Linked DNA regions of Homo sapiens. The protein of the gene in region 1 interacts with the protein of each later gene in a pairwise test. Each region holds a gene or a part of one and is shown in the gene's direction. Other genes may lie near its edges.

Region 1 (3,801 bases):
GGCCATGTCTGACCTCTGACCCCATGCCCAAACTGGCAGACCAGTTCCTGGTGGTAGGGGCCGAGGAAGGCATCTACACACTCAACCTGCATGAACTGCATGAGGATACGCTGGAGAAGGTGAGGCCCGGCTGGCTGTGGGGGGCAGAGGCCTTGTGGGGGCCTGGGGTGCTGACCATCTGTCCCTCTGTGGCCTCCAGCTGATTTCACATCGCTGCTCCTGGCTCTACTGCGTGAACAACGTGCTGCTGTCACTCTCAGGTACAAGGTGGGATGGGCAGGGAGGCAGGGTCCGCAGGGGCTCCAGCGCCTCAGCATCCTGCCCACCAACACCCCAGGCCTGGCCTCTTCCTGTTTCTGCAGGGAAATCCACGCACATCTGGGCCCATGACCTCCCAGGCCTGTTTGAGCAGCGGAGGCTACAGCAACAGGTTCCCCTCTCCATCCCCACCAACCGCCTCACCCAGCGCATCATCCCCAGGTCAGGGATCTTGGGCGTGCAGGGAGCGGGAGGCAGAGGGGCAGGGAGGGGCTGGAACATGGCCTTGCCAGTTCCTGGGATTGCAGCAATCTTAGACGTGTTGTCTCTCTGAGCGCCCGTTTCCTCCTCTGTCAATACAATTGATGGCCTTCCCACCCCCTCCCGCCGGCTTGTTGGGAGGCAAGAAGGAGACAGTGGATGTGAAAGTGCTTTCCAAGTTGTAGGAGCTGTGGTTGTTCGGATGTGGGGCTTGACAGTTAAGCAAACGTTTACTGAGCACTTATGCTATGTTGGCCCCTATGCTGGGCTTCGGGACATGGAGAATCCCATGAGTCCTCGCTTTCAAGAAATGGGGGAGATGGGCAAGTCCTTGCTTTCAAGGATTCCCATGAGTCCTTGCTTTCAAGGATTCCCATGAGTCCTTGCTTTCAAGAAACAGCGGGGCTGGGTGTGGTGGTTCATGCCTGTAATCCCAATCCTGTAATCCGAGGCAGAAGGATTGTGTGAGGCCATGTGTTTGAAATCAGCCTGAAAACACAGGGAGACCTTGTCTCTACAAAAAATCAAAAAAGTCTGGGCGGGGGGGCTCACGCCTGTAATCCCAGCACTTTGGGAGGCCAAGGCGGATGGATCACGAGGTCAGGAGATGGAGACTATCCTGGCTAACATAGTGAAACCCCGTCTGTACTAAAAATACAAAAAAAATTAGCCGGGCGTGGTGGCACATGCCTGTAGTCCCAGCTACTCGGGAGGCTGAGACAGGAGAATCGCTTGAACCTGAGAGGCAGAGGTTGCAGTGAGCCGGGATCACGCCACTGCACTCCAGCCTGGCCGACAGCAAGAGTCTGTCTCAAAAAAGAAAGAAAAAAAGCCCAAAAAATCAAAAAATGGGGCCAGGCGCAGTGGCTCAGGCCTATAATCCTAGCACTTTGAGAGGCCGAGGTGGGCGGATCATGAGGTCAGGAGTTTACGACCAGCCTGGCTAATATGGTGAAACCCCGTCTCTACTGAAAATACAAAAATTAGCTGGGTGTAGTGGTGCGCACCTGTAGTCCCAGCTACTCGGGAGGCTGAGGCAGAAGAATCACTTGAACCCTAGAGGCAGAGGTTGCAGTGAGTGGAGATTGCACCACTGCACTCCAGCCAGGGCGACAGAGTGAGACTGCATCTCAAAAAAAAAAAAAAAAAAAATCGAAAACTTAGCTGAGCATGGTGATGTAGGCATGGCGTTGTGTGTTGGTGGTCCCAGCCACTCAGGAGGCTGAGGTGGGAGGATTGCTTGAACCCAGGAGGTTGAGGTTGAAGTGAACTGTGATCGCGATCGTACCACTGCATTGAAGCCTGGGCAACAGAGCAAGACCTTGTCTCAAAAAAAAGAAAAAGGGAAATGTGGACAGTTAGCAGCCGGTACTGAGGTCCAGTTAGAGGGAGAGCTGGGAGGTGTGGAGAGGCCTCAGAGACCGGGCAAGCTTGGGAGGTTCGAAAGTGTGTCAGGGTTTCTAGGCAGGTGAGGTAGGGAATGGCACTCCAGGCAGGGGGAAGAGCAAGTATATGTTAGTATGTGTTGGGGCGGAGCAGCCTGGTGAGCTGGGGAGCTGTTAAGAGTTTGCCTGGGGGCCAGGCACAGTGGCTCACGCCTGTAATCCCGCACTTTGGGAGGCTTTGGCGAGTGGATCAACTGAGTCAGGAGTTCGAGACCAGCCTGGTCAACATGGCGAAACCCCGTCCCTAGTAAAAATACAAAAATTAGCCGGGCATGGTGGCGGGCGCCTGTAATCCCAGCTACTCGGGAGGCTGAGGCAGGAGAATAGCTTGAACCTGGGAGGCGGAGGTTGCAATGAGCCGAGATCGCACCATTGCACTCCAGCCTGGGCAACAGAGCAAGACTCCGTCTCAAAAAAAAAAGAAAAACAGAAGAGAAAAACAGTCAGATTCTGATTCTCTTTTGCAAGTTGAGCCAGTAGGATTTCCTGATGAAAGAGAAAGAGGAGTCAAGGATGGCTCCAAGGTTTTTGGCCTGGGTGTCAGGAAGAATGCAGCTGTCATCAGCTGAAGGTGGAGCAGTTTCAGGGGGAGCTGAATTCAATTTTGTTGCATGAACATGCTTATTAGATGTGCAAGTGGGACCTGCGTCAGTCCATGGCTTGGTGGGGCTGGGCTCTGAAGGGAGGGGCCCTGGGCTATGGGCCCCCGACATTGTCATGACCAGGTGGGTGGTGTGGGAAGCAGTGGACTGAGTGCAGAGGGTAGGGGAGGCCAGGCCAGTGGCTGCAACAGCTGGGGAGCTCAGGAGCCCCCTTCCTGCAACGTGCTCACTCCAGGACCACATCTGGAGCCCGGTGGCCTTGGGGCTTCCTGAGCTCAGTCCCCAAGTGAGTCTGCTTTGGCGCAGGACCTACAGGAAACAGGCCCATCAGAGCCCCAACAGGTCACAGGCAGCTTTGAGCTTGTGTTCGGGAAATGGCAGAGGCACAGTGAGCACTTTGAATGCAAAGAACAGAGAACTGGAGTTGTTTGGAGAAAAAACAAATACAAAATATATGCTTTTGTCCCATCCAAAGACCAGATGGGGAGGAGAGTGGGAGGAATGTGGGGAGAGGGAGGGACGAGGACCAGGGACAGTGAGAGACAGACATTGGCTTCCTCCATGTCCTGGCAGAAGGTACAAACAGGACATGGGCCACTGGGTGGAGGTGGCAGGGCTGCTGACAGGAAGCCCCATTCCCCAGAGGAAGAAACAGGCTGAGAGGGTCCCCTGGAGGGTTAGGGGACACTCAGTGGCCAAGGCAACGGCCCCTCTGATAACTTTTCCTCACTACTTCTACCCCGACAGCAAGGCAAGCCACCCCCTGGCCCCACAGGGCTGTTGCCTCTGCTGGAGAAGCAGAGGGCAGGCCATTTGCCTTTTGAAGTTCATTCACTGCCCCGGGCCTGTTTTCCCATCTGTGAAATGGGCCGTGTGCAGTCTGTGCAACCTGGTGGGGCTGGAGCCTGCATCCTCCCCAGCCCCTCCATGCTCTCATTTCTTCATTCCTTTTTTCTTTTTCTTTTTTTTTGAGACCGAGTTTCACTCTCATTGCCCGGGCTGGAGTCCGATGGCACAATCTCGGCTCACTGCAACCTCCGCCTCCTGGGTTCAAGCAATTCTCCTGCCTCAGCCTCCCAAGTAGCTGGGATTACAGGCACGCGCCACCACGCCTGGCTAATTTTGTATTTTTAGTAGAGACAGGGTTTCTCTATGTTGGTCAGGCTGGTCTCGAACTCCCGACCTCGGGTGATCTGCCTACCTCGACCTCCCAGAGTGCTGGGATTACAGGCGTG
Region 2 (4,273 bases), on another chromosome or scaffold:
CGCTACCACTCCCGGCTCATTTTCTGTATTTTTAGTAGAGACGGGGTTTCACCACGTTAGCCAGAATGGCCTCGATCTCCTGACCTCGTGATCCGCCAGCCTCGGCCTCCCAAAGTGCTGGGATTACAGGCGTGAGCCTCCGCGCCTGGCGACACATTGTTAGTTTTGACATCAGGATATTTCTTGCCTTATAAAATGAGTTAGGAAGTGTCCCCTTCTCTTTTGTTTTCTGGAAGAGATTGTTTGAAGTTGATGTTAATTCTAATGGTGTGGTGTGTCTGACTCCTGGGGTACAGCGGGGAGAGATGCCCAGCAGGCAGCCAGGTGTGTAGCACTGAGCCTTGAGGCAGGTCTGGGGGAGTCAGAGGGCAGCCCCTGGCTTCATGAGCTCAAAGTTAGAACCCACAGAAGACTGAGGATGTTGAAACCTCCCTCCCTGCCTGTGACAATGGCTACTCTGATTCCCCCCACCCCAGTCAGGGGTGATGACAATGTCTCATTCATCTGTCTCCCTGGTGCCTGGCACGGGGGAGGAGGGGTGCTCAGTGAATCTGGGTGGCGCAGTAGCCTGTGTGAAAGCAAGAGGCATTTCAGGAAATTCACGGGGCGGGCTTCCTCCTGGGAGGTGTGGCAGAGGGTGCTGCCAGGAATAGAGGGAAACACTTTCTTCCTTTTCCTTCTACTGCCTAGTGTGGGGGTGGAGGGGAGATGATAGGACAGATCACCGAGTTGCCTAGAGACCTGGAGACCGACCCATCCGGGTCGCCTTCCCTGGTGCGCTCTCGTCGGCTCCATCCCTGGTTGCCATGGAGACAGGAGGCGGTTGCCACGGAGACCGACGACTGCCAGGACCAGCCAATCACTCCAGAGCTGCAGCTCCAGCTCACCTTTTGCATGGAGGCATCGGGCTGGGCGGGGCCCCCTCCCTCCCCAGGCCCTGCACCCTCTGCTTGGTCAGCGGGGAAGGAGGCTGCGCCGCCAACTCCACCCAAAGCGCTCCGAGCATCCCAGAATCCCAACCACCTCCCCAGCCTCCCACAACCAGGGTTCTAGGGGCGTCCCCGCCTCTTCCTGGCCACGGGCGAATGCCACCCTGAGGCAACCCAGCTTCCAATTGGCCCTGAAACCCTCCCTCGTAAATGCTGTGGAAAGGGTGGGACCGGGCGCAGGCGCCCACCCCCGCTCCCCCACGAAACCGCCCACAGCGAGAGGGAGGCCACAGCCGGGTGGGGTGGGGGCGGGGAGGGAGCCCCCCCTACGCCCTCCGCAGTGCCTGGCGAGCCCGCGCACGCTCACTCGCTGGGACAGGCGGGCGGGGCGGCCTGACGTCACCCACTGCCCCCACCGCCCGGCCGAGGGGCGGTGGCCGCGCAGGCTCGGCGGGGCGGCGGCACGGACTGACGGAGGGTCGGAAGGACTGAGGGACGGGCGGGCGCACGGCCAGGCCATGCCTGGGGAGGCTGCCCGCGCCGAGCTGCTGCTGCCCGAGGCGGACCGACCCGGGCCCCGCACAGGTGAGGCCGTGGCCACTCTTTCCCTGCCTTCAGCCTCTCCCCTCTCCAGCCCGGGTTCTCTTTCCATCGCTCACCTTTCACCCCTCTCCCCCATCCCCCTGGCCCCCCTCGAGTCCCCTCCCCTTTCCGCGCCCTGTCCTTCCCTCCATCTGAACCCTGCTACCGCCTCTCTCAGAACTGCGGGGAAGGTGGGGCGCACGAAGTGCCCGCCGCGAGCCAGAAAGAACGTGGGGGCTTAAGCCCTTGGCTTCCGACCCAGGGATCGTGGGGCTCGCATCCCGCCCGCTGCATCCCGTTGTTTGCACCGAGCTGCCAGCCTGCTGGGGCTGGGCCGCTCTGGACAGAGGCAGCGGGTTCTGGAGGCGGGGTGTCCGGCTGATACCCCCAGTACGATCAGGTGACCACCGGGAGGGTCCTCAGTTGCACCCGGTCTGTCCTGGGCCGGCGACTGGTCATGGCTCTGGAGGGAGGAGCAGGACTGGCCAGAGCCTAGGAAGCCCGGATGGAGGGCCAGGTGGTGGAATAAAGCCTAAGTTGGGTCTGGAAGGTGGAAGGCCTTGGGGGAGGTGGCCTGATTAGCAATGGCCCTGGGTGTGCAGACCACCTGTCCTTAGGCTGGGTCAACAAATGCTGGTGGAGGCTGATGGGGTCTACGGGGCCTAGAAAGAGCCGAGCCTGGACAGTCCTGGCGTGGAGGTCAGCCATGTGTGGGTAGGGCCAAGGGCACCTTGCTGTGGGCAAGAAGTCACCCAGAGATGGGACCACTGCTGGGGCCTGGGGCCTGGTTTGGGGTGACACAGGCTGCTGCCTCTGCTCTAGGTGGGAGGCAGGGAGTGCAGGCCCAGACTTCCCAGCCCCAGGGTCTTGTGCTGGCTCTGTTCTGGCTTGCTTGGTGACCTTGAATGAGTTATAAAAACCTTTGGCCTTTGGTTTCTGCTCCATCCCAACAGCTCAGCCGTTCCCCTGCCCTGGGGGCCACACCAGGGGCCAGAACCAAGAGCCCAGCTTCAGGGCACCCAGTGATGCCCCACCAGCCACGCCCACTCCTGATGTTGGGTGTCAGGCATGCAAGAACCCAAAGGACCCCCTTGTCTCAGGACCCCCTGGATGTCCCATCACCCCAGCAGCAAAGCCCTTGGGTGACAAGTTTTGGCTGGTGGTTCAGGGCTCAGGGCTCTGATGCTGCTGAGGGGAGCTGGAGCAGCCTGGCAACAGGGTCCCCCTTCTTTCAGCTTCAACTCTAATCCTGGCTCTGCTTTGTAGATGAGAAAGCTGAGGTGCAAGAGATGTTGTCCTGGTCACCAGTGAGTGCGGGAGAGCAGGAGCCACCAGGCAGGCATCTGCAGCCTGGAGAGCTGGCCCCTGTGTGCCGCCGCTCCCCCACCTTGGGCAAGACCTGGCCTGGGCTCTGAAGGGCCTTCATTGGATGCTTCAAACAGAGGTGCCTTTGGCCTAGGTCCAAGTGAGGGAGTGGACATAATGGAGACATTTAAAATGAAGCTTATGAGCATTTAGAGCACACAGGAAAATGCTTATGAGATTAGGTTGGGTGAAAATAGCTAGATTCAAAACTGAATGTGCAATGTGATCTCGCCTGTGATAAAATACAGGCCAGTAAGAGTCCAGGAGGCAGAAAACCATAGCGGTCTGGTGTGCCGCAACCTCGGAGGGGTTTTCTTCCATCTTCCTGAGTCCCCTAAGTCCTTTCTGACCCATGAGGGCTACTTCCTATGGACTCCTTTCTCAGCTGGAGGTGTGTTAGCTCACAGACGTTTACTGAGTACCAGAGCCTCCTCATACTGAAGCCTGCCCAGCGGGTTGGGGGAGTGCATCATGGGACCCAGAGAAGGCCCACAGGGCAGGGTGGGAACTCCCAGCACCCGGGAAGGAACTGGTGGTCACCCATGGGGTGGCTGCCACCAAGGAGAGGACTCAGCCAGAGGCTGCTGTTGGCCCTCTGAAGCTGTCCTGTGCTCTTGCTGGGCTCCATGGTCTCCGTTCCTGCCCACCACTGCCCTTGTGGCCAGATGCTCCAGCAAAGCCTCCACGGGACACTTCATCTCTGTTCTCCAGAAACTTGGCTGCGTGTGGTGGCCCCTGGCTTCCCCATCTCCCTGGGTGCAGGAGGGGAGCAGGGTCAGAGGGGCCTGGTGAAACCCTGACATGTTGGCCTCAAGTGTAGGTAGCAAGGACAGCAGAGAGAGGAGGCAGAGCGAGGCATGAAGCCCAGAGTGTTCGAGCTGCGCGCGTCGTGCTGGTGCCACCTGCCTCATGTGGCGCATCTATTGGGAGGTCATGGGATGGGACTGGCACTGCCTGGCAGATTCCCACCACCAGCCCCTCCCACCGAGCCCAGCTGAACCACACTGATTCTGTGGAATGGAAACTGCAATCCAGTCTCCCCAGAGAGGCTGAAATGCTAGTTCTTTGCTGAGGTGTCCTTGAGAAAAGCCGCCAGACAGGTCTGTTCATGACTCCCAGCAACACTTCCCTCAAAACCCCTCTCTAGGAAACCACTAGCATCTGCTCTCTGCTGTCAAAACTCCTGGAAGTTCTCCCTCAAACGCAGCGTGCAGAGGGTCTTCTCTTTTCTCTCCTGCCTTCCTGGATCCACCTTCCTCTGGGCCCTATGCAGCCGGAATTCATCTCCCCGGGCCTGGCCCTTGCCTGGGAGATGCATCCAGGGGCACCTCATGATCTTCTCTATCTCCACAGATCTGTCCTGCGATGCGGCCGCTGCCACCACCATCCTGGGAGGG

Evidence for each region.
Region 2: the proteins of MAP4K2 (region 1) and NACAD interact in a two-hybrid assay, tested with the Homo sapiens proteins (one large-scale study listed by BioGRID and IntAct).

Annotation. Positions count from the first base shown.
Region 1 is NC_000011.10:64,792,952-64,796,752, reverse strand, and holds part of MAP4K2 (mitogen-activated protein kinase kinase kinase kinase 2), read left to right. Parts: intron 1-39; coding exon 40-119; intron 120-199; coding exon 200-260; intron 261-362; coding exon 363-480; intron 481-3,801. UniProt on the Homo sapiens protein: Serine/threonine-protein kinase which acts as an essential component of the MAP kinase signal transduction pathway.
Region 2 is NC_000007.14:45,086,069-45,090,341, reverse strand, and holds the start of NACAD (NAC-alpha domain-containing protein 1), read left to right. Parts: upstream 1-1,372; 5' UTR 1,373-1,447; coding exon 1,448-1,514; intron 1,515-4,229; coding exon 4,230-4,273. UniProt on the Homo sapiens protein: May prevent inappropriate targeting of non-secretory polypeptides to the endoplasmic reticulum (ER).